Linked DNA regions of Homo sapiens: region 2 is linked to region 1. The links come from fine-mapping of genetic effects on gene expression. A gene starts in region 1. The other region holds a variant in brackets. All regions are shown on one strand. Distances are between the middles of the regions.

Region 1 (15,165 bases):
ACAGGACCGGCAGAGGTGGCCACTGCCCTCGTCCCCAGCCTGCACTCCTGGGCGAAGGCTGACGCTGAACAGGTACTTGTAAGAGTCACCGAAGTGCGTGCCGGGAGGGTTCTGGGAAGAGGCAGCTGTGGGGCCTGAAGCCTAAATGTGGGGTGGGAGGCATCCAGGCTGCTGCTCCAGGCAGAGGGCACAGCCTGGGCAAAGGCCAGGAGACCAGGGAAGAAAGGACAGAGTCTGGAGCCCGGGAGAGGTGGCGAGGGGCCATAGCCCTGAAGGAGCTTCATCCTGGGGCTTCATCCGAGTTGAGGAGGCCCAGCTGGGGGTGAAGGGTGCCTCGTAGGCAGAGGGACCCCGGAGGTAGGAACTAGGGATGTGAGGCTGGGGCAGACAGAGCTGAGGGACGCAGCTCACAGCTGGCGGTAGTGAGACGTGGTCTTTGAAAGGCTTCCTGTTGGGGCAAGTGGCTTGGCAGGGGGTGTGTGGAAGCTGGGGAGTCTATAGCCGGCCTGGGTGGGGCGGGCAGTTGAGAGAGATTTTGGAGGTTGACTAGATGCTCCTTGGTGACAGTGGCACTTGAAGAAGGAGGGCAGGGCTGGGATGATGTGGTTTCCTGGGATGGGAGGCGCTGAGAAGGTCTGGGTGCTGGTGGCGGTCTCACCAGGGGGCTGCTTCTGGAGCCCCCATTAACAGGCACTCGGCTCTCTGGGGACCTGCCTGGGTCTCCGGCCCCACAGGCTCCCCGAGCCCTGCCAGGCTGGGCAGGTGTGCAGCCCACCCAGCAGGCACTGGAGACCCCGGGAGACCCCGGATCCTGCAGGGCTTCTCCAGGTGTTTCCAGGAGCCCAGACATGCAGCCGCCCTGGGCCGCGAAGCCTCAAGAGGGAGCCGGGCACGTCCTTGGCACCCCAGCTTTCCTTGCTACCTGAGATCCCCTCTGTGGCTGGGGTTGCTGGAGATGCCCAAGGAGTAGGGGCTCCGTCCTCATTTTCACCCCCGACCCCAGCTCCGACTATGTGGGAGGTGGAGGTGATGGCTCAGGAAGGTCTTGGCTGCTTCAGGCCAGCTCTGGTCTCTTGGACGAAGCCGCTGGGCCGTGGGTTCAGCCTCCTCGTGCTGGCCACAGAGTTGGGGCCCCTCACGTGCCTCACAGGCCTGCCCAGCGCAGCCCATGCGCTCACTGGGGGCTCCTTCCCAGGGCACGACCCTGATGGATGCTGGGCCTCCCTGACGACCCTGCTGGTCAAGCCCGGGGCCAGGCGTGTCTGAGGACTCCGAGGAGATTTCCATGGTCCGTGGTGTGGCCCTGGGTAGGCGCCTGGCCAAGTCACCAGACACCAGGCCTTCGGGATCCCCGCATCCACCAATGGGGTACTGACCCACAGGCGCCGGGCAGGGCGGCCTCCAGGTCAGAAACCTTCCAGGACGCTGAGCACCGACTGTTTGCTTCCCTGCCCACGGATGCCCCCTCGTGGCCAATCCCATCCATCTTAGAACTACGTTTCAGAGTTGAGGATGCAGGGCTGGAGCGGGGCCATGGCTGAGCTCGGTGCCACTCAGGCCCGAAAGCCCCAAGTCAGCCTGGCTAGCGTGCGCCTGGCCATGGGCATCATCAACACAGCTTTTGTTATTCATTATTATTTTTTGAGACGGGGTCTCACTCTTGCCCAGGCTGGAGTGCAGTGGTGCAATCATGGCTCACTGCAGCCTTGACCTCCCCGGCCTCTGGTGATCCTCCCACCTCAGCCTCCTAGGTGCATGCCACCACGCCCTCAGGTGATCCTCCCATCTCAGCCTCCCAGGTGCATGCCACCACGCCCGGCTAATTTTTTTTTAATTTTTGTAGAGATGGGGGTGTCTTGCTATCCTGCCCAGGCTGCTCTCAAACTCCAGGGCTCGAGAGATCCATCCGCCTTGCCCTCTCAAAGTGCTGGGATTACAGGCATGAGCCACGGTGCCCAGCCAAGCCTTTGTTATTCTTGTTGTTGGGGTCCAACTGTGGGGGCTGTGGGGAAGTCTGCAGACAGCTCAGAGTCAAGACAGACCCCGACAGGGACAGGTGGTGCAGGGAGATGTCATTGGAGATTCGTCCCCACGTGCCTGGTCCGTGTGTCTTTTCCTGCTGGAGAAACTACATGTGGGGTTACTCCTGGGGCCCCTGACTACACACAGCATGAGAGGGTAGGAGACAGGGATGGAGGGAGGAGGGAGATGGTGACAGAGAGAGAGACCAAGAACCCCAAGAGACAGAGACAGACAGACAGAGATAGAAACTCAGAGAGACAGACAGACAGACAGAGAGATGGACAGGCGGCCCCTCCCTCCCAGTCCCCCAGCCTTGCTGAGCCCATGGGAGCCCAAACAGCGGAGGAGGGGTCCTGGGGGAGCGGGCTAAGGGCCCCAGTTTATGTGCTGGGGCTGTCACTTTGCACTGAGCGCGCCCCCAGCTCCAGCCGCTCTGGCTGCTCTCTGGAGGGAACAAGGGCTTTCAGAGCTGGGGACCCGACGTGAATACTAATCCAGAAGCTCAAAGGGCGGCCTCACAGGCTGGGCACAGGGAGGCTGGGCCGGGGCCAGGGCCAGCTGAGCCTGTCTGGGAGCTCGCCCTGCTTGGCCTCCCCCCGCTCTTCGTGCTGGGGAGCTCCTGTCCTCCCCTCAGGCCTGAGAGGGTCCCCAGCTACCCCAGGACAGGGTGGGGGGTGGGAACTGCAGCTCCAGGAGTCAGGGTCTCGTGTCCAGCATGAGATGACACCGGGTGGGCCCCCAGCACACAGTCCCTTGAAGAATGGCTGCCCAGGAGGCCTCAGGCCGATGCGAGGGTCCTTAGCTTTGCTTTGCATTCCTACAGTGCTCCAGCGACAGCTCCAGGGAGGCCTGGGGAAACGGAGGCACGGGCACGGAGCCCATGGCAGGGAAGAGGGCTTGACTGTACTCTGTGCTAGGACACCCCAAGTCCCGCAGGCAGTGCTGGGGTCAGGCCCCGTGCATCCTGCCTGGACCAGGATTCAGACCCCTTTGCCTCCTTCCTGGACGTCACCTACTGCACCCAGGAGACCTCAGTGTCGGGCCATGGAAACCCCTGCTTGGGCCATACACGGCTCCCCTGCTTGTGTTCCGAGCCCCTTCACCCCCCAGCCCCTGGCCCTCAGCAACCCCCCTCCCCAGATGCGGCCTCATCTCTTCTCCAGCTTTTCTGACCCTGCCCCACTTCCTGCACCCATCTTTGCCCAGATCCCTGCAGGCATTCTGTACAGGGAGGCCTGTGCTCGCACGGTTCCTTCCACCTGGCACACCCCCATCTCTGCCGTTGACCCGGGCTCATCTTGCTGTGCGGTGAAGCCAGCCTCAGAGCCGTCCTCCTCTGTCCCCACAGCACTGTCTGCCTGCACCCTCGCCTGCTGGCCTTGGAGCAGGGCTGAGCTGCAGAGAGGCCAAGCCCCTGTTCTGTGGCTCGAGTTTGCTGGGTGAGCAGCTGCTGCTTCCCAGGACTCCTTGTGCCAATGCCCCGGGAGAGTTTTCCTCTTCCTTATAAAACCCGTGTGAAGCATTTTCCTGTTTTCCAATGTGGATGAGTTTCCTGCGGCTGCCGTGACAAATGACCACAGCTGTGCGGCTTCAAACAGCACACATTCACTGTCAATTCTGGAGGGCAGTGGTCTGAAGTCAAGGCTGGGGCAGGGCCGAACTTCTGCAGAGGGCTCCAGGGGAAGGTCCTTCCTGCCTCTTCCTGCTTCTGGGGGCTCCAGGTGTCCTTGGCTTGTGGCTGCACCACTCCCATCTCCGTCTTCTCCTCTGTGTCTCTGTGTCTTCAACTTTCTGTTTTTTTGTTTGTTTGTTTGTTTTTGTTTTTGTTTTTTTTGAGACAGAGTCTGGCTCTGTCACCCAGGCTGGAGTGCAGTGGCACGATCTCGGCTCACTGCAAGCTCCGCCTCCCAGGTTCACACCATTCTCCTGCCTCAGACTCCCGAGTAGCTGGGACTACAGGTGCCTGCCACCACGCCTGGCTAATTTTTTTATATTTTTAATAGAGACGGGGTTTCACCGTGTTAGCCAGGATGGTCTCGATCTCCTGACCTCGTGATCCGCCTGCCTTGGCCTCCCAAAGTGCTGGGATTAGAGACGCGAGCCACCGCGCCCAGCTCTGTCTGTTTTTTACAATATTTTGTAGAGATGCTGCCCAGGCTGGTCTCCAACTCCTGGGCTCAAGTGATCCTCCCACCTCGGCTTCCCAAAGTGTTGGAGATTACAGGCGTGAGCCACCTCACCCAGCCTCTTTCTCTCTCTTTTTAAAAAATTGTTGGCTGGGTGTAGTGGCTCATGCCTATAATCCCAGCACTTTGGGAGGCCGAGGCGGGTGGATCACTTGAGGTCAGGAGTTTAAGACCAGCCTGGCCAACACAGTGAAACCCCATCTCTACTAAAAATACAAAAATTAGCTGGGCTTGGTGGCACGCGCCTATAATCCCAGCTACTCAGGAGGCTGAAGCAGGAGAATCGCTTGAACCTGGGAGGCAGAGGTTGCAGTGAGCCAAGATCACGCCACTGCACTCCAGCCCGGGTGACAGAGCGAGACTCCATCTCAAAAAAAAAAATTGTCATTATTTTTTACATTGTCTTGTTCCTCCAATGAGGAACCTCTTTCTGTCTCTTACAAAGTCACTTGCATTGGATTTAGGGCCCACCCTGACTCTGACCCAGGATGACCTCATCTTGAGATCCTTACTTTAACCATATCTGCAACGACTCGGTTTCCAAATAAGGTCCCATTCTGATGGTGCAAGTAGGCACATTTTTGGGAGCCGCTATGTAACCCACCCTGGGGAAACTGAGGCAGGGCAAGGTGAAGCAGCTTCCCCAGGCCACACAGTTCTCTTTTAACCCCAAGTCGGCCTGGGTCAGAGGATGGTGATGGGGTCAAAGTTGGGGGCGGCCCCCTTTGTTCATCACTGAAAGGACAGGGGTCCCCATATCACGGCCTCTTTCTAGAATAGACTCTGACGAGGTAGCTTCAACCAGAAAGGGGTGTGCAGTCTGCCGGTGGGAGACCAGCGTGTCCCGGGTGCAGTGTGGACAGGGCGTTGGCTGAGTGAAGCCTTGGCTGGCAGGGGCCAGGTCATCAGCAGGCTGCCTCTGTGTTTCGGGGGTCCTGGCACTGGGCATGGCGCCACCCAACTTGGGGCACCCAGGAGGGGCCCTACTCATCTGGGCTTCCAGTCTCCCGGGCTGACCCAACAGACAGAGGAGGAACTGCCACTCTGGGCTTGACACATAATTGCTTTTTTTTTTTTTTTTTTTGAGACGGAGTCTCTGTCGCCCAGGCTGGAGTGCAGTGGCGCGATCTCAGCTCACTGCAAGCTCCGCCTCCCAGGTTCACGCCATTCTCCTGCCTCAGCCTCCTGAGTAGCTGGGACTACAGGCGCCCGCCACCACGCCCGGCTAATTTTTTGTATCTTTAGTAAAGATGGAGTTTCACTGTGTTAGCCAGGATGGTCTTGATCTTCTGACCTCGTGATCCGCCCGCCTCGGCCTCCCAAAGTGCTGGGATTACAGGTTGAGCCGCCGCGCCCGGCCTCGATGCATAATTTCCTTTCCGGTGGCTATTCAGGGAGGGGCGTGGGGGTTGGGGGGAGGATATTCCACAACTTCTTTGTAATAAGCAGCTTTAGGACAGAACATTCAGGCCAGGCTCGGTGGCTCACGCCTGTAATCCCAGCAATTTGGGAGGCCAAGGCGGGTGGATCACTTGAAGTCAGGAGTTCGAGACCAGCCTGGCCAACAGGGTGAAGCCCTGTCCTTCCTAAAAATACAAAAATTAGCCGGGCGAGGTGACGGGCACCTGTAATCGCAGCTACTTGGGTGGCTGAGGCAGGAGAATCGCTTGAACCCAGGAAGTGGAGTTTGCAGTGAGCCGAGATCGCGCCACTTGTACTCCAGCTCTGGGCAACAGAGTGAGACTCCGTCTCAAAAAAAAAAAAAGGCCGGGTGCGGTGGCTCATGCCTGTAATCCCAGCACTTTGGGAGGCCGTGGCAGGCGGATCACGAGGTCAGGAGATCGAGACCATCCTGGCCAACATGGTGAAACCCCATCTCTACTAAAAACACAAAAATTAGCTAGGCATGATGGCAGGCGCCTGTAGTCCCAGCTACTTAGGAGGCTGAGGCAGGAGAATGGTGTGAACCCGGGAGGTGGAGCTTGCAGTGAGCCGAGATCACGCCACTGCACTCCAGCCTGAGTGACAGAGCGAGACTCCGTCTCAAGAAAAAAAAAAAAAAAAAAAAAAGAACATTCATCTTTTCTCAGGTTCTGGGTTCTCCATCCCCAACAGAAATAACCTGGAAAATCCCTGCGGCAACACGTGTGAAGAAGTGCAGCTTTCTGAGTCACAATCTATTTGTAGGAATTTATCCCAAGGTGAGGGGGACCAGATACCTGTACAAAGATCTGTGGAAACAAGATCGTCTATCACAGTGATATATGCTAGTGAGACACCAGGAGAAACCAAAATATCCCAAAGCAGGTGACAGATCCATGACACGGAGTCCAGCGCAGACCATCAGGGTGTGGAGACGGACTTTTGGCTATTGATGAGTGTGAAGTCACGGGCCGCCTGCAGAACGCAGTATGTGACGTGAATCCCTTAAAATATGTATTTAGGCTGGGCACGGTGGCTCATACCTGTGATCTCAACATTTTGGGAGGCCGAGCTGGGAGGGTTGTTTGAGCCCAGGAGTTTGAGACCAGCTTGAGCAACATAGCGAGATCCCATCTCTACATAAAAGTTTCAAAATTAGCCAGGTGTGATGGCACGTACCTGTAGTCTCAGCTACTCAGGAGGCTGAGGGAGGAGGATTGCTGGAGTCTAGGAGGTCGAGGCTACAGTGACTCGCGTTTATACCAGTGCATTCTAGCTTGGGCAATAGAGCAAGATCCTGTCTCAAAAAAAACTTTTTAAAAATACATTTCAATGTGGAGGAGAAGGCGATCAGAAGGATGTCTGACAAGAAGGTGAGAGAGGTTACCTCTACACAGTTGGCTTATGGGGTCTTCTTTTTGTTTTTATTTTTCATAATTTTCCAAATTTTGCACACCGGACACCTAGTGTTGTGTTGTTTTTCTCTCTCTCTCTTTTTTTTTTGAAACAAAGTCTTGCTTTGTCACCCAGGCTGGAGTGCAGTGGCATAATCTCGGCTCACTGCAACCTCCGCCTCCCGGGTTCAAGTGATTCTCCTGCTTCAGCCTCCCGAGTAGCTGGGACTATAGGCACCAGCCACCACGCCCAGCTAATTTTTTTATTTTTAATAGAGACGGGGTTTGACCATACTGGCCAGGCCGGTCTTGAACTCCTGACCTTGTGATCTGTCTGCCTCAGCCTCCCAAAGTGCTGGGATTACAGGCATGAGCCACCACGCCCAGCCGTGTTATTTCTTAAGGCTTAAAAAAATTCTTTGAGGCTGGGTGTGGTGGCTCACGCCTGTACTCCCAGCACTTTGAGAGGCTGAGGCGGGTGTATCATGAGGTCAAGAGTTTGATACCAGCCTGGCCAAGAAGGTGAAACCCCATCTCTATTAAAAATACAAAAATTAGCTGGACACAATGATGGGTACCTATAATCCCCACTACTCAGGCGGCTGAGGCAGAAGAATGACTTGAACCCCGGAGGTGGAGGTTGCAGTGAGCCCAGATTGCACCATTACACTCCAGCCTGGGCGACAGAGCGAGACTCCATCTAAAAAAAAAAAAAAATTCTTTGCACTGGTGTGGGACGATGGTGACGAATCCCTCAGCCATCTGTGGGGCGCTGCTGAGGGCGTGGGGGGCATTTCTGCACGGTGAAGCAGAGCTGGTGGGAGGCTGCCCGAGGGAAGCTGGTGCTGGGAGGGTTTGCAGAGAGGAAAAGGGCAGTTTATGGAAAAGGCCTCTGGGCTCTGTCTGGAGCCGTCATGCCGGCCTTCACGGCATCCTTCCGCACTTAGAGTCCTTTCCATCTCCTGGTGGCTGGCACAGGGCCAGGGCTGCACTCACAGCTGGCCAGGGTAGGGCAGGGCGCCCGTCCTCAGGGCCACTGACTGTAGGGCTAACCTAGGGGCCTGGTTCACCCCTCTCACCTGGGGCTTCGCTGATAAGCCTGGTTCACCTCCTCACCTGGTGGCCTCGTTCACCCCCTCACCTGGCGCCTTGCCTGATAGCCTGGTTCACCCCTCTCACCTGGGGCCTCTCCTGGTGGCCTGGTTCCCCTTCCTCACCTCGTGGCGCTGGTTCACCCCTCTCACCTGGGGCCTTAACTGGTGGCCTGGTTCACCTCTTCACCTGGCGCCTTGCAGAGTAGCCGGGTTTACTCCTCTCACCTGGGGAGGCACGAACTGGCCCGGGCTGACTGACCTCCCTCACCTGTTTGGCTTTAGGCTCTGGGGCCCCCCTGCCCGGGTGTTTCTGGGAGGCTGGAGGGTCCCACGTGAGCTCCACCGCGGGCAGCTGGAGGGAGTGGGGCAGGACGCTGAGCGCCGGGAGGGGTGTGGCCCTCCTGTCCTGCCCGCGGCCCCACACCGGCCCCAGTCCCGCCCGCCTCGGTCCCTGCCCCGCGCGCCGACGTCACCGGGACCTCCCGATCCTCCCGGCCCAGGCCGAGCTGCCCACGCTGCTGCCCGGGGCTCGGTGCCCGGCGCGGCCTCTGCCGGCTCCGGCGGGCGCGGGACTGCGAGGTAGGGGGGCGCGCGGGGAAGACTCGGGGGCGCAGGGACCGAGAGGGACCTCCGTGCCGGGGCGGGTGGGTAGGGGCAGCTCCGGGTCCAGCCCGGCCCGCGCACCAAGTCCCGAGGGCGCCCGGGCGGCGGCGGCTACGGGCGCGCGGGGACCGCGGAGACGCGAAGGGCGCACTTGGCGAGGGTTTGGTGCAGCGCCGCGCCGGGGTCCGCACAGCCCCGGCAGGTCCTGCAGAGGGAAGGCCGGGCCAGGGAAGGGCCACGCGCCCCCTCCCCGCCATCCTCTCCCAGGCCAGGGCGACCTGCGCGCTTCCCGATGGGAGCAAACTGGGGACGGGTCGGGAATCCAGGGCCAAGCGCCCGAAAGAAGGCGTTTCCGGGCTGGGGCGAGCCAGGTGGGTGCGGGACGTCCCCGGGGAACCTCCAGGGCGCCGAGAATCTCGTCGTGCCCAGGGCTCCCCGCAGCCTGTGTATGAGCCGGGGAGGGAGAAGGCTTCCTCCCCCAGGAGACTGAGGGAGAAGGCTGTGGATATGATCCCTGCAGGGATGTAAGACAGGTCTCAAAACCAGAAAAGCAAGGGAGGGGTGACAGAGAAATGGCAAACTTTACAAAGGACAGGGGAGGGCAGGGACCTGGGTCCTTTCTGCCCCCATCACGGGAGGGAAACACTTGGCAGAGGAGTTTGGGGTTCGCAGGTGAGGAGAGAGAACAGGAAGCCAAGAGTCTGGCCCGGAGGCCACTACCCCTGCGGTCTAAGCCCCCGGTTTTCCCTCCTAGCGAATGGAAACTGAGAGGTGAGAAACCCCCAAAACCATCCGTCCGTCTGGTTCTGCCTGAAGGTCTCCGCTGTCAGCTAATGAATAGCTCGATGCAGCTGCTGGGAGGTTTTGCAAAGCGCATTCAGAATAGCGAGAATCAGAGCATGGTTTCTTGCCCAAAGGCCAGGCATCTGCGTGGTCAGATGGGGGAGCATGAGTGCCCGGAGCTGTGCGGTTTAGGGCAGCCTGACCTTGGATACCTGGTTACTGGGCCAGTCTGGCGGCCCTTGTTGCTTAGAGCGGCAGAACCTCCCTGGGGGGGGGATGCGGACGTGCTCTTTTCCAGTCTTTGGACAAAAAAAGGCAAGGGGAGGAGGAAGGAGAAGCGTCTGAGTTTACCCATGGTATTAATAGCAGCAGGGCTGGAACTCGGGTGCTCTGGGAGAGGAGACGTCCTACCCCCTGTCCCCGTCAGAACATCCCTGCTCCAGGAGCAGCTGGGGTTCCAGTGTGAAGCGTGGCTTTGAAACCAGGCCCCGCTGGCCCCCAGCTGTGTCGCCAGGGCCAAGTCACTTAACGTCTGAGCCTCAGTTTCCCCACCTGAAACACCGCAGTGGCACCTGCGGCTCCGTGTGTGGCTTGGAGGACGCAGGCATGAGACCTGTTGGCTGCTGTCATGACTGCAGTTAGCAGAGGAGGGGGACACACTGTGACAGGGTCCAAAGGACAGCGAGAAACCTCCATCTGGGGGTCTCCTTTTTGGAGCATGGATGGGTTGGTGAGTGCCAGAGGGTGCTGCGAAGCTGACCCCCACTAAGGCGGCTCCCTCCCCGTGGGTACCCCCAGGGCTCACATGCAGCTCTGGCTCTATGTGAGGAGTGGTCTTGTGCAGAAATGACCTGGCAGGATGGAAGGACTCAGCTGGCAGCTGACAGTGGGGACCGGGGTTTTCCTGAATGACCCACGAAGACGAATGTGGCCACAAGGCTTCTTGAGAGGAAATAGTATGTGGGCAGACGTCATGCCCTGGATGCCCGAGAGCTGTACCCGTGTTAAGGGATGGAGGGAGCTAAGCGTTCTCATTCCTAGCTTGGAGCCTGTCACACCATTCTCCAGTCTGCACTAGGAGGTGGCTGTGTTTTTGTGTGTGTGTGAGAGAGAGAGAGAGACAGACAGACAGACAGACAGGGTCTTGCTCTGTCTTCCAGGCTGGAATGCAGTGATGCAATCATAGCTCACCACAGCCTCGACCTCCAGGGCGAAAGCAATCCTCCCATCTCAGCCTCCCTAGTAGCTGGGACCACAGGCATGCACAACCATGCCCAGCTAATTTTTAAAATGTTTTGTAGAGACGGGGTTTTGCCATATTTCCCCAGGCTGGTCTCAAACTCCTGGACTCAAGCGATTGTCCCGGGAGGTGGCTATTTTTAGAGCTTGCCTCTCACATCCTGTTGATCTTCCAGCCGGGCTAGTCTGGAGCTGGCGTGGCCACTCCTTCCCGGGCGGCTCAGGTTGGCTGAAGGTGGTGTTGTGTCTCTGGCTGGGTTTCCGATGTAGATGCTCTTGAGTTACCCACGTGCCCGCCACTGCTTGCGGGTGTGCAAACGGCCTCTGTGGTCGTGGCTCCTCTGTGCGTGTGCTCTGGTCCCCTGCAAAACTTGTCGCTGTGGCCCTTCCTGTTGCTCCCATTCGGTCCTCCCTGAATAACTTAGATGGGCCTGAGGTTGGCAGTTTGGGCCCAAGTCACACCTGGAACCAATGTGGTAGGGCTTGTGAACTTTTGGTAAAAAGAAGGCATTTCTCAGCCGGGTGTGGTGGCTCACCTCTGAAATCCCAGTGCTTTGGGAGGCCGAGGCAGGCAGACCACTTGAGGCCAGGAGTTCGATACTAGCCTGGCCAACATGGTGAAACCCTGTCTCTACTAAAGATAACAAAATTAGCCTGGCATGGTGGCATGCGTCTGTAGTCCCAGCTACTAGGGAGGCTGAGGCATGAGAATCGCTTGAACCCTGGAGGAGAAGGAGGTTGCAGTGAGCTGAGATTGTGCCACTGCACTCCAGCCTGGGTGACAGAGGCAAAAAAAAAAAAAAAAAAAGCATTTCTCATTTCCTGATGCTTTGCCTGGAGTAGGAGGGTTTGCTGGCAGGGAAGCCTCTGACCAGGGTTTTCGGGTGGTCAGGTGGGTGTGGGTGCTGGCAGGAAAGCCCCCTCAAGAGTAGGGGAAGGTCCGTGTGTGAGGACTGGAGTCAGGGGTCTCTGTGCTGGGAGTCAAGATCCAGGTGAGCTGTGTAACCCTGGGCAAGTGGCTTTCCCTCTCTGAGCCTCAGTCTCCTGGGTTATGACATGGGTGAATCTCAGGATGGCTTTGGAGGTCGGACAAGGTGTTGCATCAGAAAGTGATTTTGGGCCGGGCGCGGTGGCTCACACATATAATCCCAGCACTTCGGGAGGCCGAGGCGGGTGGATCACAAGGTCAGGAGTCTGAGAACAGCTTGGCCAATATGGTGAAACCTCGTTTCTACTAAAAATACAAAAATAAGCTGGGTGTGGTCGTGAGCGCCTGCAGTCCCAGCTGTTCGGGAGGCTCAGGCAGTGAACCCAGGAGGCGGAGGTTGCAGTGAGCCGAGATTGCGCCACTGCACTCTAACCTGGGTGACAGAGCAAGGCTCCGTCTCAAAAAAAAAAAAAAAAAATAAGTGATTTTGGGGCTTTGCAGGGTGGCAGGCACCGGAAGGGGAATGTTGATCAGGGCTGGTCCAGGGTGCCCGCAGGTATTGCTATCTGTTTTACCATGTCATTCTCTGGAAAGCTGGGACACAGACCATCCTGGGCATCTGGAAGGCCCTGGGCTGCTCCAGAGAAATAATTGATAGGCCCCTGTGGACAGAACAAATAATTCTGAGCTGGCTGCGGCGCTAGGGGAATGATTTGGAGGTAACTGGGAGGTTATGGTGCTTGCCCCTTGTGGGCGGCAGTGCTGGTGAGTGGAAGGTCTGGGAGCGAGAAGCCGGTGAGCAGGTCATGTCACCGGTACCCAGAAACTACAAAAATAAGCTGGTGAGTCTCCTGTGGCGTCGGGTGCTCCGAGGCCGGCTAAGTGCCTCCTCCTCCTACTTGGGCCAGCCAGGCTCCTGGAGGAAGACAGGTGGGACCACACCCATCTCACAGGGAGGACACAGTGGGGTTGAAAGAGGACCGAGCTTGGCCGGGCGTGGTGGCTCACGCCTGTAATCCCAACACTCTGGGAGGCCGAGGCGGGCGGATCATGAGGTCAGGAGATCGAGACCATCCTGGCTAACACGTGAAACCCCATCTCTACTAAAAATACAAAAAAAAATTAGCCGGGTGTGGTGGCGGGCGCCTTTAGTCCCAGCTATTCGGGAGGCTGAGGCAGGAGAATCGCTTTAACCCGGGAAGCGGAGGTTGCAGTGAGCCGAGATTGTGCCACTGCACTCCAGCCTGGGTGATAGAGTGAGGCTCCATCTCAAAAAATAAAAAATAAATAAAGAGGACCAAGCTCATGCCAGAGCCCTCGGAGTTGTTGAGGGCATTCCAGCTTCAGGGGTTTCCTGGGCGCCTCTTCCGTAGCGAGGTCCCCAGGAGTCCCCGAGGGGACTCTGAGAGGTTGCAGGGGGTGCTGCCTCCACACGCTGACACCTGGCATGGCTAGGGCAGGAGTACCCCACCCCTTGGCCACAAGCCCAGCAGCGGTTCCCCACCTCACCCAGAGCAAAGGTTAAAGCTCTTCCAACAGCCTCCCGGCTCCTGCGCGATGTGTCCCCATCTTCCCCCAATCTCGTCCCCTGTTCTTTCCCCCAATTTGTTCCAGCCACACTGGCCTCCTCCGGCTGTCCCCTGAGCCCCCAGACGTATCTGCTGCGGGCCTGTGTACACCCACCTCTGTCTGGGACGGTCTGCCCCTCCTCCCCGCTGCCTCCTTGCTCAGAGATCCCACCTCAATGGAGCCCACTGTGATCACCCTCTCAGGAATGGGAGTGTGGGCCTGGCACGCCTGAGCCCTGCCCCGCTCTGTAGGGGGGTGTTTGTTTGTTTGTTTGTTTTGAGATGGAGTTTTTGCTGTTGTTGCCCAGGCCGGAGTGCAGTGGCGCGATTTCGGCTCACCGCAACCTCCGCCTCCCGAGTTTAAGCAATTCTTCTGAGTAGCTGGGATTACAGGCATGCGCCACCACGCCCAGCTAATATTGTATTTTTAGGAGAGATGGGGTTTCTCCATGTTGGTCAGGCTGGTCTTGAACTCCTGACCTCAGGTGATTGCCCGCCTCCCAAGGTGCTGGGATTACAGGTGTGAGCCACCGTGCCTGGTTGGTGGGATTGTTGTTGTTGGACACAGGGTCTTGCTGTCATCCAGGCTGGAGTGCAGTGGTGCGATCACAGCTCACTGCAGCCTTGGACTCCTGGGCTGGAGACTTCCTCCGACCTCAGCCTCTCGAGTAACTAGGACCACAGATGTGTGCCACCACACCCAGCTAATTTTTGTTTTGTTTTGTTTTGTTTTTTGACACGGAGTCTTGCTCTGTGGCCCAGACTGGAGTGCAGTGGCGCGATCTCCGCTCACTGCAAGCTCCGCCTCCCGGGTTCACTCCATTCTCCAGCCTCAGCCTCCAGAGTAGCTAGGACTATAGGCGCCCGCCACCACGCCTGGCTAATTTTTTGTATTTTTAGTAGAGACAGGGTTTCACCGTGTTAGCCAGGATTGTCTTGATCTCCTGACCTCCTGATCCGCTCGCCTCGGCCTCCCAAAGTGCTGAGAATGCAGGCATGGGCCACTGCAGCCAGCCAGCCTTTTCTTTTTCCAACAGGACCTGTCACCTTCTAACCTACCTTCTATGCTATTTACTTAGCACTTTTGCCACCTGCCTTCCTGCTGGAGCACCTAACTCCATGGGGCCAGGGACCTCTGTTTTGTCCACTCATGTTGGAAAACCCCCAGCACAGGGCCCAGCACCCAGGAAGCCCTTGGCAGCTAATGTCACTGTCATGAGTCCGCTGAACTGGGCCACAGGGTGCCTGATGCAACACCGTTCCTGGGCGTGTCTGTGAGGGTGCTCGAGATGACATTAGGATTAGGACAGTGGGTTCAGGAAGGTGGACTGCCCTCCCCAAGTGGCTGGGCACCTTCCAATCCCTCCAGACCCTGAATAGAACAGACGGCAGAGGGAGGAGGAGTTCACCCCTCATTTCCTGCCTCGCCGCTGGAGCTGGGACATGTCATCCTCTCTTGCCCCGGGACTGGATGTCCACCATCGGCTGCCCTGGTTCTCAGGCCTTCGGACATGAGCTGAGTTTGAATCACGCCTTGGGCTTCCCTGGGTCTCTGGCTTGTAGGCAGCACACTGTAGGACTTCTCAGCTTCTGAGGCCTGTGAGCCAATTCTCATAATAAATCCTTATTTTATTTTCATAGAGTAGAGATGAGGTCTATGTTGCCCAGGCTGGCCTTGGCCGCCCCTGCTCAAGTGATCCTTCTGCCTCCCGAAGTACTGGGATTACAGGTGTGAGCCACCGTACCTGGTCATAATCCTATAAATATACATGTGAGATTATATTACATTAATATATTATCGTATATATTAAAATCTCATATATATAATATATATTTTATTTATTTTTTTTTTGAGATGGAGTCTCGCTCTGTCACTCAGGCTGGAGTGCAGTGGCGCGATCTCAGCTCACTGCAACCTCTGTCTCC
Region 2 (15,165 bases), 26 kb after region 1:
ACTTTGAGAATTTTTGGCCTGGGCCGATGTTTTTCACCATAGAGGATTTTCTTTTCCTTCTGCCAGGCACCAAAGGGCTGACTGTGGGACAAAGACATGAAGCTTTTCTGGGTCATTCTGATGGTCCCCAGGGCTCCGCATCCCTCCCAGGGCAGGAAGCATGTCAGGGTCATCCTGCCCACTCCCCCACCCCAGAAACAGTCCAGCTTCATCTGTTTGAGCTCCAGTCCTCCCCGTTTTTCTCATTAGGTCTCTGCCTTGGTTATTGAGGTATAATTTAGATAGTAAAATTCATCCTTTTTAGTGTAAGGTTCTGAGTCTTGACACACGCATACATCACGTGGCCATCACCATAATCATATAGAGGGCGGCTCTCTACCCCTCTACCGGCCACCAAACCTTTCTCCTTAATCCACTCCTCCCCATCGTGGGTGTTGGAAGCAGCTGTTCTTTATCATTCACTCTGCCTGTCTGGCCATCTTTTGGCGGGAGGGTTGTCTAAATTCCCTAGGGTACTGTTACAGGGAGCAGCCACTGTTGAGATTTGGGGGTTGATAGGGGTCCCCTGGCTGGGGTGGGGTGCCATCCCCTGGGTGGCATGTTTCTTTGTCCTGGCCTGCTTTCTGGGTACAGCCTACACTCCACAGGCTTCCCCAGCCCCTGAGGTCCTACAGTGGGGTCTGGGGACAATGTGGCCTGCCTTGGCCCTGGCCCTAAAACACAGCCGGGGACCCCGTGCCTCTCAGGCTTGGCCTCTGCAGCCTCAGCTCTCCTCACCTCCCCCACGCCGTACACGGTGCGTCTCACCTGTTATGGCCTCTGACCTGTTGGTGCCAGGCCTGTGGCAGCTCAGAGACAGCACCAAGTCCCACAAGGGTCACTCCAGGGCTTTCCACCCCCTCTGCTTAGTGGACAAACTGCTGTTTTCCCCAGCCCCACACTTCAGAAGGTGCACGGGGGAGCCCTCGGGAAAAGGACATGCACTCGGGAAGGTTCAAAAGCAGGTGGAACTCAGAGGGTATGCCAGGTTGCATTTGTGGGGTCAGCTCAGCCTGGTTTTTAATTTTTTTTTAGAGATGGGGTCTTGCTTTGTGACCCAGGCTCAAGCGCAGTGGTGCGATCATAGCTCCCTGCAGCCTTGAACTCCTGGGCTCCTCTGCCTCAGCCTCCCAAGTAGCTGGGACCGCAGACACGTGCCATCACACCTGGCTAATTATTTTGATTGTTGTAGAGATGGGGTCCTGCCATCTTGCCCAGAGAGTAGCATGCTTTGGATCACTGTACTGGTTTCCTGGGACTGCCGTAACAAAGTACCACAAACTGAGTGGCTTAGGGACATTTCTTGTCTCACATCGCTGGAGCCTGCAGTTCTTAACCAAGGTTTTGGCAGGGCCACGTGGTCTCAGAAGGCTCCGTGGAGGGTGCTTCCTGGCTGCCTCCAGCTTCTGGAAGTTGCTGGCAATGCCCAGCCCTCTGTGGCTTCCAGATGCACAACTCCAACCTCAGCCTTTGACTTCCCGTGAGCTTTACGCCATGTGCCTCTGCGTCTCTTCTAAGACTCCAGTCACTGGGTCTCCTTCATGACCTCATCTTAACTGGATTACATCTGCACAGATCCTGTTTCCAAACAATGGCAGGTTCCGGGGGTTAGGACTTCCACCTGTCTTTTTGGGGGACATAGCCTGATCCACAACAATCATCACTGTCAATCATCATCACCTCATTAGCATCATTGTCAATCAATTACCCAGCTGCTCAGGAGGCCGAGGCAGGAAGATTGCTTGAGCCCAGGAGGTGGAGACTGCAGCGTGAGCTGTGATTGTACTCCAGCCTGGGTGACAGAATGGGATGTTATCTCAAAAACAAACACAGGGCCAGCTGTGGTGGGTCATGCCTGTAATCCCAGCACTTTGGGAGACCGAGGCAGACGGATCACGAGGGTAGGAGTTTGAGACCAGCTTGACTAACATGGTGAAATCTCCTTTCTACTAAAAATACAAAAATTAGCTGGGTGTGATGGCACGTGCCTGTAATCCCTGCTACTCAGGAAGCTGAGGCAGGAGAATGGCTTGAACCTGGGAGGCGGAGGTTACAGTGAACTGAGATAGATAGCGCCACTACACTGCAGCCTGGGCAACAAAGCAACACTCCATCTCAAAAAAAAAAAACAAAAAAACACACACACACAGAACAACCTCCTTGTCAATCTGTTCCTTTTAATGGTAGAACTCCTTGGAAAACACTTCTCCGGTGTGCCTCTGTGCCGCAACCCCTCTTCTCTACACTAACTCTGAGACCCTCTCCGGGTTTCCTGGGCCCGTGGTGGCTGCTCTGCCCCCTTCCCTCCCTGGGCTTCTGGTTTCCCGGCTTTGATGCCATCGTGCCCAGGTTCAGCCCCTGGGCCTCTCCTGTATCTGTCCACACTCATGCTCCGGGGAACCATGCTAACAAGTTACACAACTTGCTAGCTTGGATGACCCACTGTGATCTCACAGTGCTGTGGGTCAGGAGCGCCCCCACTGCCCAGGCTAAAGTCAAGGGTTGGCTCCAGGAAACTCCAGGGAGAATCCATTTCCTGCCCTTTCCAGCTTCTAGAGGCACCCGTATCCTTGGCTAATGGTCCTTCCTCCGAGCCAGCCCTGCAGTGCCCTCAGGCCTCACGTTCTCACCCAGACCCCCTGCTGCCTCTAACGAGGGCTTTTTTTTTTTTTTTTTTTTTTTGAGATGGAGTCTGGCTCTGTTGCCCAGGCTAGAGGGCAGTGGCGTGATGTCAGCTCATTGCCACCTCTACCTCCTGGGTTCAAGCAATTCTCCCGTCTCAGACTCCTGAGTAGTTGGGATTACAGGCACGCACCACCAGGCCCGGCTCATTTTGTATTTTTAGTAGAGATGGGGTTTTGTCATGTTGGCCAGGCTGGTCTCGAACTCCTGACCTCAGGTGATCTGCCCATCTTGGCCTCCCGAGTTGCTGGCATCACAGGTGTGAGCCACTGTGCCCGGCCTTACCGAGGGTTCTTGTGATGGCATCAGGCTCAGCTGGCTGCTGCAGAAAAACGCCTCCATCCCAAGATCTTTAATCATCTGCAGCCCCTTTGGCTGTGGGGACTCACAGGTCCCAGGGCTGAGACGTGGACTCTCTGGGGCTGTCGCTCAGCTGCTGAGGTGGCTTCTCCTTCCTGGGGCTGCAAGCGCCAGTCTTGTTGGCCCGGCTGCCTCTCCAGCGTCCCCACTGGGCTGTCCATGGCCTTTGACTTACCATGTCCTGATCTCCAAATGGCCCTGGCTGTCACTCCACATCATGCAGTACTGTGTGCCCTCAGGTCACACCAAACGCTGGTGGCCCACACCTGACTTGGGAAGGGGCAGGGCCCAGGCAGAGGAAGAGGATGACGGGGTGCCAGCCTGAGCCTGGAAGATGGGGGTCCCCGGCTGCCTCCTGACCCCATCCTCTGGCCCTCTCCCCGCAGACGGCATCCTGTCCTTCTTGAAGAACAACAAGCCAGGGGACGCGCTGTGTGTGCTGGGCCTCACACTGTCTGACCTGTACCCCCATGAGGCCTGGAGCTTCACCTTCAGCAAGTTCCTTCCAGGGCACGGTGAGCCGGGGCCCCAGCAGCTGTGCGTGGGGGGTAGCCTGGCATGGGGCTGTGGCCTCCGTGGCTGCAGGGCACCCTCTTTGCTTTTGCTTCAAGCACCCTCCTGGTGGAAGTCAACACCTGTGCATGGGAATAGATGGCCCCTTCCAGCTCCTCCTGAGGAATGGCATAGGGGCTGTTCCTCAGCTGTGGCGTCTGCCCCAGGGCCCAACTTCATGTGGGCAGGACAGGGCCTCCCAGGACTGGTATGTCTTTGGGCCATGGCCAGCTTGCATGAGAGCATGAGGTGGGTTTGACGGTGGGCCCCCCAGAGCCAAGGCTGACCCCTGAGAGTGCCCTTCTCTCCATCTCTCTCCAGAAGTGGGCGTCTGCAGCTTCGCCCGGTTCTCAGGGGAATTCCCGAAGTCGGGGCCCAGCGCCCCTGATCTGGCCCTGGTAGAGGCAGCAGCAGACGGCCCCGAGGCCCCCCTGCAGGACAGGGGCTGGGCCCTGTGCTTCAGTGCCCTGGGGATGGTTCAGTGCTGCAAGGTGGGTGGGGGCTCTGGGGCTGGTAAGAGGGGACAGGAGGGTGCTGTCTGAGCCCTTGGTGCCTCGGTCTGTTACACTGCCCCATCCTCACAGTGAAGTGGATGGACCCCTAACTCTATGGAATGAGGAAAGCAAGGCTACACAGCTATGAAGCAGCAGGGGAGGGATTAGAGCCCCAAGCCCCTATCCTGTGTGGCCTCCCACCCTGACTCACCTTTCCCCTGGGGCCCTGAAAGTGGCCTGTGCCGCCTGGGGCAGGGGGAGGGCGCCTGGACCACCTCCCGGCCATCTGGCCTCACCCAGGTCCTCATTTTGGTCCTGCTGGGGCTGCCTGGGGATCTGCCGGATGCAGGGGCAAGGCAGTGAGGCAAGGTGCTTGGTGGCCTTCCCCCCAGGTCACGTGCCACGAGCTCTGCCACCTTCTGGGCCTGGGGAACTGCCGCTGGCTCCGCTGCCTCATGCAGGGTGCGCTCAGCCTGGACGAGGCCCTGCGGCGGCCCCTGGACCTCTGTCCCATCTGCCTGAGGAAGCTGCAGCATGTCCTGGGTTTCAGGCTCATCGAGAGGTACCAGGTGAGTGGCTGAGTTGCGCTGCCCGGCTGCTGGGACCTGCGCTCCGGAGGCCCGCGAGCGCCGCCTGGAGGCTACGCAGGGCATGGGGACCGCACACAGGCTTTGTCAACTGCCGGGTTCCAGGCAGTGCAGAGCCCTGGGACCTGCGCTGGGGTTGAGCTCCATCCGGATCTCACTGGCAGTAGATCGAGTCCTGCCAGGGCCCGCGTGTGGTGGCTGTGACTGGGAGGTTGCAGCGGGGTCGAGTGGGGACGAGGGCTTTTCTCCCTCTGTCAGGAAGAGCTGGCATTGGAGCCCAGCCGGCGGGTGGCACGGTCTTCCCAGGGTAACTTTCTCTTTGCTTTCCCGTCACCCACACTTGGGTCACTGCTGCTCAGAGGAGGCACAGGCCCCTTGCGAGGAGGTGGGAGCTGACACAACAAGGCTTGTTGGAGGTGGCCTCCATTCCTAACTCCCTCTGTCGCCTGGGTGGGGTTG[C/T]CGAGCAAAGGGCTCGTCCGTATTCATGGACATTTGTTTGCAAGCTCAAAAGCTTTACTCTGAGTTCTGAGTGCAAAGGCAGGTGGTGGTAATTTTTCTTCAAACCCAGCTTTGGACTACAACCAGTTATAAGGTGCTCACTGCGTACAGGCACCAGAGCAGTCAATGAAACCGCGCTGGAAAGCCCCTGCATCCTCCTCCCGCCCGTTGAGGCAAGTGGGGGTGTGGTTCCCGGACCGAGCCTGTCAGAATCCCCTGCAGGGCCTAGCTGGGCCCTCCTTCCTTCTGGGGTAGAGTGAGGAGCTGTATCTTGCAGGGTCCTGGGTGACACTGAACTAGAGGCCGTGGCATTTCTAGCTCACAGTGCTGGAATCTCTCTGCAGGGATCCTCTCTGAAGACTCTGGCAGTCAAGGGAAGGTGAAGGGGGCACAGAGGAAACAGCTTTTCCAAGTGTAAGGAGAAGAGCCTGTGACTTGGGGGGAACCCAGGCGCAGCCATGGCTGAGGGTAGGAGCATCTCCCGAGGGTACAGGTGGCGTGATGGCTGGTCAGCACCTGGTGATGCCTTGTAAAGGTTGCTGCTGCCAGCTGTGCCCCGTCAAGGGGCAGCTCTTAGTACCTTCCTGAGGCTGTGTAACAGGCACAGGGGCAGCTTGGTCTGCAGAAAGGGTTGAGAGCTCTCATTTGATGCCTTCACCTGGGGTCTTGTGCAACCATCTGACATGAACTTTTAGAAAGTGTATGCCCCTCCCTACACGTGCTGACCTGGCATAGCCTGGATCCACCTGGATCTGAGCTGGAGGGTGTAGCTCCTCCTCCTGCCCAGAGCTCTCTCCGTTCCGTGAGCACCATCTCCTGAGGCTGTGGAGGGAAGAGGGCCAGGGCAAAGGCACTCCAGGGTGGCCTGGCCCTCCTGGCTGTTGTAGGGAGGGCAGTGGTGTGGATGTGAGGTCACCTGCTGTCCCAGGGCTTGGGGAGGTGCTGGAGAGCTGACCAAGGGCCTGGCCAGAAAAGGTCACTGCTGTCCACTGACAGCAATCAGTGAAATGCCTCTTGAAGAAAGCCTGACTTGTTGTGGTCTCTGCCACTTCCTGTGGTGTAAACAGTCTCACGATGGCTGATGTGAGCTCCCAATGTGATGTCAGTGAGTGCTGAGTTGGGAACAGATGTGCAGTGGGACCTTGTTAAACTGTGTGTCCCCTGTACAGATGCAGGAGAGGAGACTAACCTTGAGAGCAGAGGTGAGAGTGAAATGGAGAAAACATTTAGGAAGTGAGTTTCAAGTACTGCCTTTGCTTTACATTTTTTTCCCCCTGGTGGTCTCACTATGTTGCCCAGGCTGGTCTTGAACTCCTGGTTTCAAGTGATCCTCCTGCCTCTGCCTCCCTGTGCTGGGATTACAAGCGTGAGCCACCATGCCCACACCTTTGCTTTAAAATTTTAAATTTTATTTAATTATACGCTTTCTGGGTGGGTGCCGTGGCTCACACCTGTAATCCCAGCACTTTGGGAGGCGGAGGTGGGTGGGTCATCTGAGGTCAGGAGTTTGAGACCAGCCTGGCTAACATGGTGAAACCCCGTCTCCACTAAAAAATGTAAAAATTAGCCAGGCATGCTGGCAGGAACCTGTAAAATCCCTGCTACTCAGGAGGCCAACGCAGGAGAATTGCTTGAACCTGGGAGGGGGAGGTTGCAGTGAGCTGAGATCGCAGCACTGCACTCCAGCCTGGCCAACAGAGTGAGCCTCTGTCTTAAAAAAATCGAAAAATGTTAAGTGTTCTAACTTTGGATGACAAGGAGCTTGCGAAGTTCCTGAATGGTGAGCTCTTGGGGGTGGGTACCTCTGACTCTGGCACAGCCTGGACATGAGTCCTCAAAGGGTGCTGGTCACAAGAGCCCTCACACCACCAGCCTGACTCCCGCCCCTGGGTAACTGAGGACGGTGGGGTCCCCTTAGGTAAGGAGGTCTCCTGGCAGTTCCCTGGCTAGACAAGGGCTGGCACGGAGCAAACTCAGCCTGTGTTTCTCCCTCTTAGAGACTCTACACCTGGACTCAGGCGGTGGTGGGGACGTGGCCCAGCCAGGAGGCGGGGGAGCCGTCAGTGTGGGAGGACACCCCGCCTGCCAGCGCCGACTCGGGCATGTGCTGTGAGAGTGACTCGGAGCCCGGCACCAGTGTGTCGGAGCCCCTCACCCCTGATGCCGGGAGTCACACCTTCGCCTCGGGGCCAGAGGAAGGGCTGAGCTACCTGGCAGCCTCAGAGGCTCCGCTGCCACCTGGGGGCCCTGCGGAGGCCATCAAGGAGCATGAACGGTGGCTGGCCATGTGCATCCAGGCCCTGCAGCGGGAAGTGGCAGAGGAGGACCTGGTGCAGGTGGACAGAGCCGTGGACGCCCTCGACCGCTGGGAGATGTTCACGGGCCAGCTCCCGGCCACCAGGCAGGACCCACCCAGCAGCAGGGACAGCGTGGGGCTGCGCAAGGTGCTGGGGGACAAGTTCTCCTCCCTGAGGAGGAAGCTGAGTGCCCGAAAACTCGCCAGAGCAGAGTCGGCCCCCCGTCCCTGGGATGGGGAAGAGAGTTAGTACAGCAGGGGCTGCCCTACGTCTCCTTCCCTAAGGATGCTGGCCAGCACTGTCCAGTAGCTGAGGCCACTACTGACCTGCCAGGGATAAAGAGGAAGGGTCTGCCTGGGTGGTGGCTCAGGCCTGTCATCCCATCACTTTGAGAGGCCAGGAGTTTGAGACCAGACTGGGCAACATGGTGAGACTCTGCCTCTACAAAAGAAAAATTAAAAAATTAGCTGGATGAAGTGGTTCATGCCTGTGTTCCCAGCTATTCAGGAGGCTGAGGTGGGAGGATTGCTTGAGCCTAGGAGGTCGAGGCTGCAGTGGGATGTGATCATACCACTGTACTGCAGTCTGGGCCACACAGAAAGACTGTCTCCAGAAAAAAAAAAGTTCTTTGGAGAAGCCACAGACCACCTGTCTTCAGGCGCCTCCTTCAACTCCTGAGTCCCAGCCAGCCGCTCCCAGGGGCCTGCACACATGGAGAGGCCTCCCTGATCCTGGGTGCTTCTCGTGGAGTACAAGCCGGACTGTGCTGAGGTTGGGACAGAGCCCCCTCCCCTGCAGAGGCAGAAGGAAGCAGCGTGCGTCCTGTCTCCTTCCAGGCTGTGGGCCTGCCCTTCAGTTATTTATAGCTGGAGCTGGAGAGGCTGGCTCAGATGAGGAGTGACCCCGGGGGCACACAGGCTCCACACTGCCACCCAGCTTCCAAGGCTGAGTCTCCTCCCTAACGGGGAAGTGACGGGGTTTTGTCTCTATCATCTCAGGCGTCAACCACATGCACACACACACTGTCACGTTCTGTGGCGCTAACAGCATCCTGATCCTGACGGACTTCACCGGGGCTCTCCAGGCATCTCTTCTGACAAACACTGCAGGAGGTGAGGGTGTCTGACGTGCACTGAGGGCAGAGGCCCCCTTATTCCTGAGGCGGCTACAGCTCACCGTGGGGAAGATCAACTGTGGTGATGTTTTTGGGACAGTTTCTTGGCAAAGGTGGCCGCGCTGTCAGTACCAAGTAGCTGGAGGTGGTGATCAGATGATCTGTCTTTCCTTTTTTTTTCGGTCTAGTTCTGTCAGTTGCTGAGAGAGGGGTATTATTGCCATGGCTGGGCGTTTGATCTGTCTCCCTTTAGTTTTGCCGGATTTTGCTTCCTGCACTTTGAAGCTCCTTTACGTCCCTGCACATTTGATTGTTGTGTCTTCCTGAGGAATTGACCCTTTTATTGTCACACGTACCCCCTCAGCCTGTGGTGGAGGGTCTCTGGGAGAGAGACTTCCGGTTCTGACAGCGGAATCCCTTCGGAGTGACGAGGGCGGGGTCACAGCTCGCGCACCCTCATCTGGAGAGAGGCAAGAACAGGGCAGCTTGGACCTTTTGTGGGTGGGTGGCTCACACGGTTATGGAGGGCTTCTAAGAAAAACAAAATACAAAACTAAAACTAGAAGGGCTATGCAGGTGAGGTGGGCTGAGGCTTCCTTGTGAATCTGACATTGGTGGAGGCCGACTGAAGGCTCCCGGTCCTGGTCCCACTCCGTGTTGACTTCAGAGAAGCAAAGATGCAGCTCAGAAGTAGCATTAGGATCTTCGTCCCGTTCTCTTTTGCGTAGCTTCAAAAAGGCGTAACAGTGACCTGGGAGGGGAGATGAAGAGCTAGGCCTTTCAGAAAGTGACCAATGGAAGGTGCCGGCAGAGCACCCTGCAGTAACAGAAGGTGAAAGCCGGAGCCTGGTGGCTGTTGCTGCAAACAACCACCCAAAACTTAGTGGCTTAAAATCACCACAGTCTAGCTCATGAATCTGTAACTTGGGCAGAGCTCGGTGGAGACGGTTTGCCCCTGTGGCTCGACTGGAGTGTTCGTTCACACGGCTGCCAAGTGGAATTTGGCTGGGAATCTCAGGCCTTGGTTCCTGCCCACGTGAGACTCTCCATGGAGGAGGGGCATCTTCTTAGGAAGGCAGCTGCCATACCGTGAGGAAACCCGACAAACAGGGCAGCCAGAGCCAGACAGCAGGCTCCTGGTCCCAGTCCCGGAAAATGCAAAGGGACAAGTATGTGTTGATTTCAGAGAAGCTCAGATGTAGCATTAGGACCTTCATCCATACCCTTCTCTTTTGCATGGCTTCTAAAGGGCATGACAGTGACCTGGGAGGTAACTGTGCCAGAATAAAGAGGGGAGACGAAAAAAAGAGGGTCACTTTCAGAAAGGGACCTGGGCTTCCTCACAATATGGCGGTTGCCCTCCTAAGGTGGACATCGGGAGGGTCAGATGGAAGCTCTGTGGCCTTTCCTAACTCGGCCTCACGTCACAGAGCGTCACCTTTCCTGCACTCCACGGCGGCAGTGACAAGGACCCCACCCCAGGTTCACGGGGAGGGGACGTGGCAGGGAATGTGAGACAACACAATATTGCTGTGGCCATTCATGAACAGTCAGTCAGCCCCACTCGGCGTTCACTGTGGGGATTTGGCTGGTGCACCTGCGAGGTGGCCTGACCTGTTTTCCGATTTCCTTCATCTTCTGCAAAAGGTTAACCGCTGGAGTGATGCGAGATTAAACAGAGGTGATAAAAATAGAATGCCTGGCTCATGCTGAGGGTGGGAGCCCACTGGGGTTATGACCAAAGCCTCGGCGCTCTCTGTACCCGTGTCCTTTGACCCTCAGCTGTGATGTGTGTCCCAAAAAAGCGTTTTGAAGTGGGAAGGAGCAAACCACTAAAAAAAACTCCTTTTATCCGCAGCGTTTACCAACTTGCAGATGTCAGTGAAATTTTTTAAGACAGCTGTTAGAAGGACTGTTTTGAAATGCAACTTTGAGGAAGAGAAATTGGTTTCCCTCCTCTCCCCCGTGTTAGCCCCAGGTTCTGTCTGTGCTGTGGTGAAGAGTGACTTGGGACAGTCACCAGGAAAGACGCAAGGCAGAGGAGAGAGAATGAGGGCTGCCTTCTCGAGGAAGGTCACAGCTCACGAATCTTTCTAAACTTAAGTGCTGCAGAAGTTGAACTGAGATTAAATTTAGAGATGATGGTTTCCAAGACACACAGGGCCACGGTTCTTTCAGTTTTTAAACACGTGCAAAGTCCACTGAATTGCTTTCTCGTCTCATCTGTCAGAAGCCCCTGCATTCACAAGGATGGGTCTTCCAGCTTGACGATGACCTCTCTTCGGAGAGCCTCACCCATCTTGGTAAGCCAAGTCAGCGGGGCCTCATGGAGCTAAAAATAGTTTCAGGTCATGACAGATGTTATCTGTATTGCTGTGTGTGCGATGAGTCTGGGGAAGCTAACACATGCCTTCTGAAGTGGCTAGAATACACACTCCCACGTCACAGCCATGCTATGATGAAGGGGTGAGAAGCAGTGTCCCCTCTGAGGCAAATCTCTCTTCAGGCAGCCCCGCAGTCCTCTTCCGAAATCTCATTCTTTTCCCTCTCTTCCTCCCCAAAAAGCCCAAACTCATTGTCAGAGTGGGGAGAGGGGAGAAGCAGCATCCTGACTCCTGTCCATGGTGTGAACCCTGAGGGCACGGGACAGTGAGTGGAGCTCTGCCACCACCCGTTTCCAGAGCATGGGTGAGGAGGGAGGGATGCCGACCTGTTAATATTTGCTTCAGACCTTTCCCCGATGAACGAAATCTCCAAAAGCCTTAAACATAAAATGGCTTAGTCAAGCACGAGTGATAAAGCTGGGAGTCCAAATTTAGATCCCACCAAGTTCAAAGGGGGAGGCTAGAACATTCCAGGGACACACCTACACGCAGAGGGTCTCCATACAGTGCCAAGGGAGCTGCTCTGCAGACCCACCAGGCAGGGACGGCCAGGCCTCGGAGAGAGGGACCGGCTGCCCTGCCCAAGGCCCACCTGGACAGGCAAGTCTTCCCTAGTGGGTCAGTCAACTCCACCGCTTAAGGGGTCCTTCCTATGTAACGGAATTTTTTTACATCATCATCGAGTCTCGAAATGACCTGTAAGGCAGATGGCTGCATCCCCACCATATGGCTGTGGCTGTCGAGATGGGACTGGGAAGGGCTGGAGCCTCAGAAACGGCAGAGCGGAAGTTGAGGCGCAGTCTGTTCTTGCTTGAACCCCGAGTTCTCCCGCTGTTGTGCAGCTTTCTAAAAGCAAGCTGGAGCGGTCTGAGCAGGAAGAGAGTAAGAAGGCGCACGGACGCGGGAGGCCTGCACCCTGATCCCTGAGCAGCCCCCACACACCGGCACCCACGCCCCTCGGTTCTGATAACCAGGAGGCTTTCTGGCCCGTGCAGCTCCTTCGGACTCTGAGGAGAGGCCTGGGTGGGTGGCCGGCACTCTTAGGTGAGGTGCCAACGAAAACACCCCCGTGATTGCTGGGGCTTCACTGATTTGTTTTGTTTATAAAAGGAGGGCGAGGCCTGCACAGGAATATTTTTATCCCCGTGAAGACGGAGAGAATCAGGGCTTCGCGACGGGGCTCATAGACCTGAACTGGGTCTGCCTGCCTGTGTGCTGGAAGCAAACGACGGCCCGTCCTCTAAGCTGGCTTTGCAGCTCCAGTAAGAGTGAGAGACTCACGGGGGCCTGGCTGCCGTCCTGGGAGAGGCCCCGGGAACCGGCTCGCCCTGTACCCAAGGGCTCTCTGGAGCTCACCCCGCACGCAGGCTGCTCCAGAGCTGAAATCTAGCTGTGATCCCTGTGGGGCAACTGCACACAGAGGTGCCCAGTTTCAAGGAAACCTAAAGCAGCAGCAAATTTATGGCTCTTGGAACACGAGGCTGTCAAAGATAAACACCGCAGGGTAATCTAGGAAACACTTCCGGCTTGACTGTAAAGAGCCCTGGCCTGCGAACGCTGTTAAAAACAGATGCAGATCGCGGGTGGAGACGGCCGGCCGAGCCTTCCCTTTTCTGACATCCTACAGCAGCACCTTGATGAATGAGAACCCGGAAGAATGGAGGTTTATTTTTGAACTCAGCTTCTTGGGTAGGGAGGCAAATGAAAACAGGCTGATGTCAGGGGTTTATTTTAAAAAGCAATTTCCAAGAAGCGTCCTGGGGTCACCACGCGTTCAGTCCAACTCTTCCCCGCTGCAGTGTTCCCGTGACGATGAGGCAAATCCAAATAGTCACCGGAGTCGAGCAAACACGGCGGCCCCTGCCTCCCCCGGCGGCTCCACAATGGCCCTCAGAGGGTCCGCGGCAGCCAGGCCCGTCCAACCTCCTGCCCTCTCTGAGAGGGGCCCGAGCTCTCGCAAGATTAACCAGAGACGACACCTACCAGATTCCACCACTGAGGCCTCCCTCGATGCCTGCTCCCTGGGCTTTTTAATGAACGCACTTCTGTCACATGGAAACTGAGCCCGGCATGGAGTCACGTGGCTCCACCCTGGGGCTCCTCTGATGCCGAGAGCTCTGGCTCTCCTGACTGTGGGCCCAGTGTCCATTTTCTCTCTCAGGCAGGGTGCTCTGCCCGCCACAGTGTGCCTGGTTTTCTGGATACAGCATGACTGAACCGCCCCTTCTCAGCAAAGGCCAACACGTCTTTCTCGAGTCCAAGACCATCTCCCGTTCAAGGGCCCTCACCGCGCTTTGTGAGTCTGTCTCGTGGGCCTCCTTCAGTGGTCTGTGACCAGCGGGAATGAATGGGGACGTGTTTTGTTCAGCCCTGACTCTTGGACGCTGGTGGCAGCCGCGGGCGCCCACTCACCTGGCACGTGGACGAAGGTGATGAGCGCGGCTGACGGCTCCCGGGGGCAGTGTGGGGTCCAGTCTGAAGCCGACGCCCCTCTCGGTCAGGCTTTCAGCAGCAGAAGGCAGTGGACTCTTCACCATTTCTTCCAACACTTTCTCACGTAGGAGCTCCACTGTCCCTTCTAACAGGACAGGGCTTGTGCAGCCGGGCTTGGTCTTGTGGTCAGGGAGAAGCGGGCAGGCCAGGGCCGAGCTGCGTCCGGCTCTCAGGGACTTCCTCTCCCTGTGCTCTGCCCACCTGGGGTAGGCCTCTGGGAACAGGGGAGTCACAGAAACCACGGGAAACGGAGTGGGTTGGAAGAGGCAGAGAACACGCTTTTCTCAGGGTCGCTTAACACAGGCAGGGGTACAGGAGAGCTCCGGCCATTTATTCCAAATGTATGAGCAGGAAGGAAAGAGGGAGGGAAGCTGCAAGAACAGGCGACTTTTTTTTTTTTTTTTCCCCCCCATCTGAAGTGAGATCAAACTTCTACCACATTCTACCTGTGCCCTTCTGGGTGGGTGGTGGCCGTCCTCTTGGGCGCCCCCTTGTGAGGGCTCGAGGCCTTTACTGGATGGGCAGGATGCGGGCAGCAGCTTTGTCGGCTGCCAACCCAACTCCTCCGACAGAACGGCAGGTGGCCCCTGTCGGAAGGGGGGTGTCTCTTTATTCCTGCCATCCTCCGGCCGCCTCTCCCGCCTGCACCACTTGGAGGCAGTTGTTTCACGTGGGGCTCTTGATGGCATAACCTGATGTCTGTCACGGACCCCCAAGCAGGAGCAATGCCTAAAGAGGGCAAAGGCCCGCGCGCCTGGCAGAGCTCCCTCCTCTGCTCCAACAGCAGAGCCCAGAGCATCCCTTGGCCCGACGCACAAGTCCCACAATAGCCTCTCCCAACGGGAACGACTTAGCCCTAATTACATGAGCTTTGATCACCGCTCGATTGTATGGCACAGTTATTTTTAAAAATCCAGTCCAAGTGGAAATACACCTGGAACATTTTATACTGCAATGACTGATGGACGACTTTGATATACAAAATAAATTGTTACTCAGCTTTTCTATAATGCTTACATCTTACATTTTCATTCTCAAAATTAATAAATGCTATCAACCCCAATTTTTTTTTTTTTTGAGATGGAGTTTCGCTCTTGTTGCCCAGCCTGGAGTGCAATGGTGTGATCTTGGCTCACTGCAACCTCTGCCTTCCAGTTTCAAGCGATTCTCCTGCCTCAGCCTCCCACGTAGATGGGATTACAGGTGCCTGCCACACCATGCCCGGCTAATTTTTGTATTTTTAGTAGAAATGGGGTTTCATCACCTTGGCCAGGCTGGTCTCAAACTCCTGACCTCGTGATCCACCCGCCTTGGCCTCCCAAAGTGCCAGGATTACAGGCGTCAGCCACCGTGCCCAGCCTCAACTCCAAATTTTAAAAAGGGCTTAAACGAAGAGGATGAAATTCTGGAAGGCTAAATGAAAAGAGAATGTGTCTGTTGAATTCGATAAGCAATTCCTTGCATTTGAGAAGGCAAGGAGCCGACGGGAACCTACCGACAGGGCTGCCACGCACTGCTGCAGAGCTTTCCGTGCAAAGCGCGGCTCCCCTCTGAGACTCGGCTCCTCTGCTGACATGGACCGGTTCATCTACCCACGCGGACGCCCATCCACAAACACTTAGTCACTGCTGGAGGCTTTTAAAACACCTGTCAAATGAAGAGTCA

What was found.
Region 2: its variant is fine-mapped to the expression of AMZ1 in whole blood (TOPMed, PIP 0.96).

The regions. Positions count from the first base shown.
Region 1 is chr7:2,679,600-2,694,764 of GRCh38, forward strand. It overlaps AMZ1 (archaelysin family metallopeptidase 1), which reads left to right and starts at 8,603. Exons shown (of 7, transcript NM_001384743.1): 1 at 8,603-8,697. RefSeq lists enhancers at 1,222-1,727, 9,302-9,571.
Region 2 is chr7:2,705,121-2,720,285 of GRCh38, forward strand. AMZ1 (archaelysin family metallopeptidase 1) reads left to right here. Exons shown (of 7, transcript NM_001384743.1): 4 at 3,468-3,596; 5 at 3,955-4,124; 6 at 4,520-4,696; 7 at 7,210-14,563. The coding sequence ends at 7,758. Among named protein-coding and RNA genes, the nearest start is that of AMZ1, 25 kb to the left of the region's middle. RefSeq lists enhancers at 4,424-4,523, 4,443-5,138, 5,284-5,503, 5,514-5,563, 6,204-6,363 and 1 more and silencers at 4,684-4,843, 8,022-8,221. The variant C/T (reference allele first, on the strand shown) is at 5,174.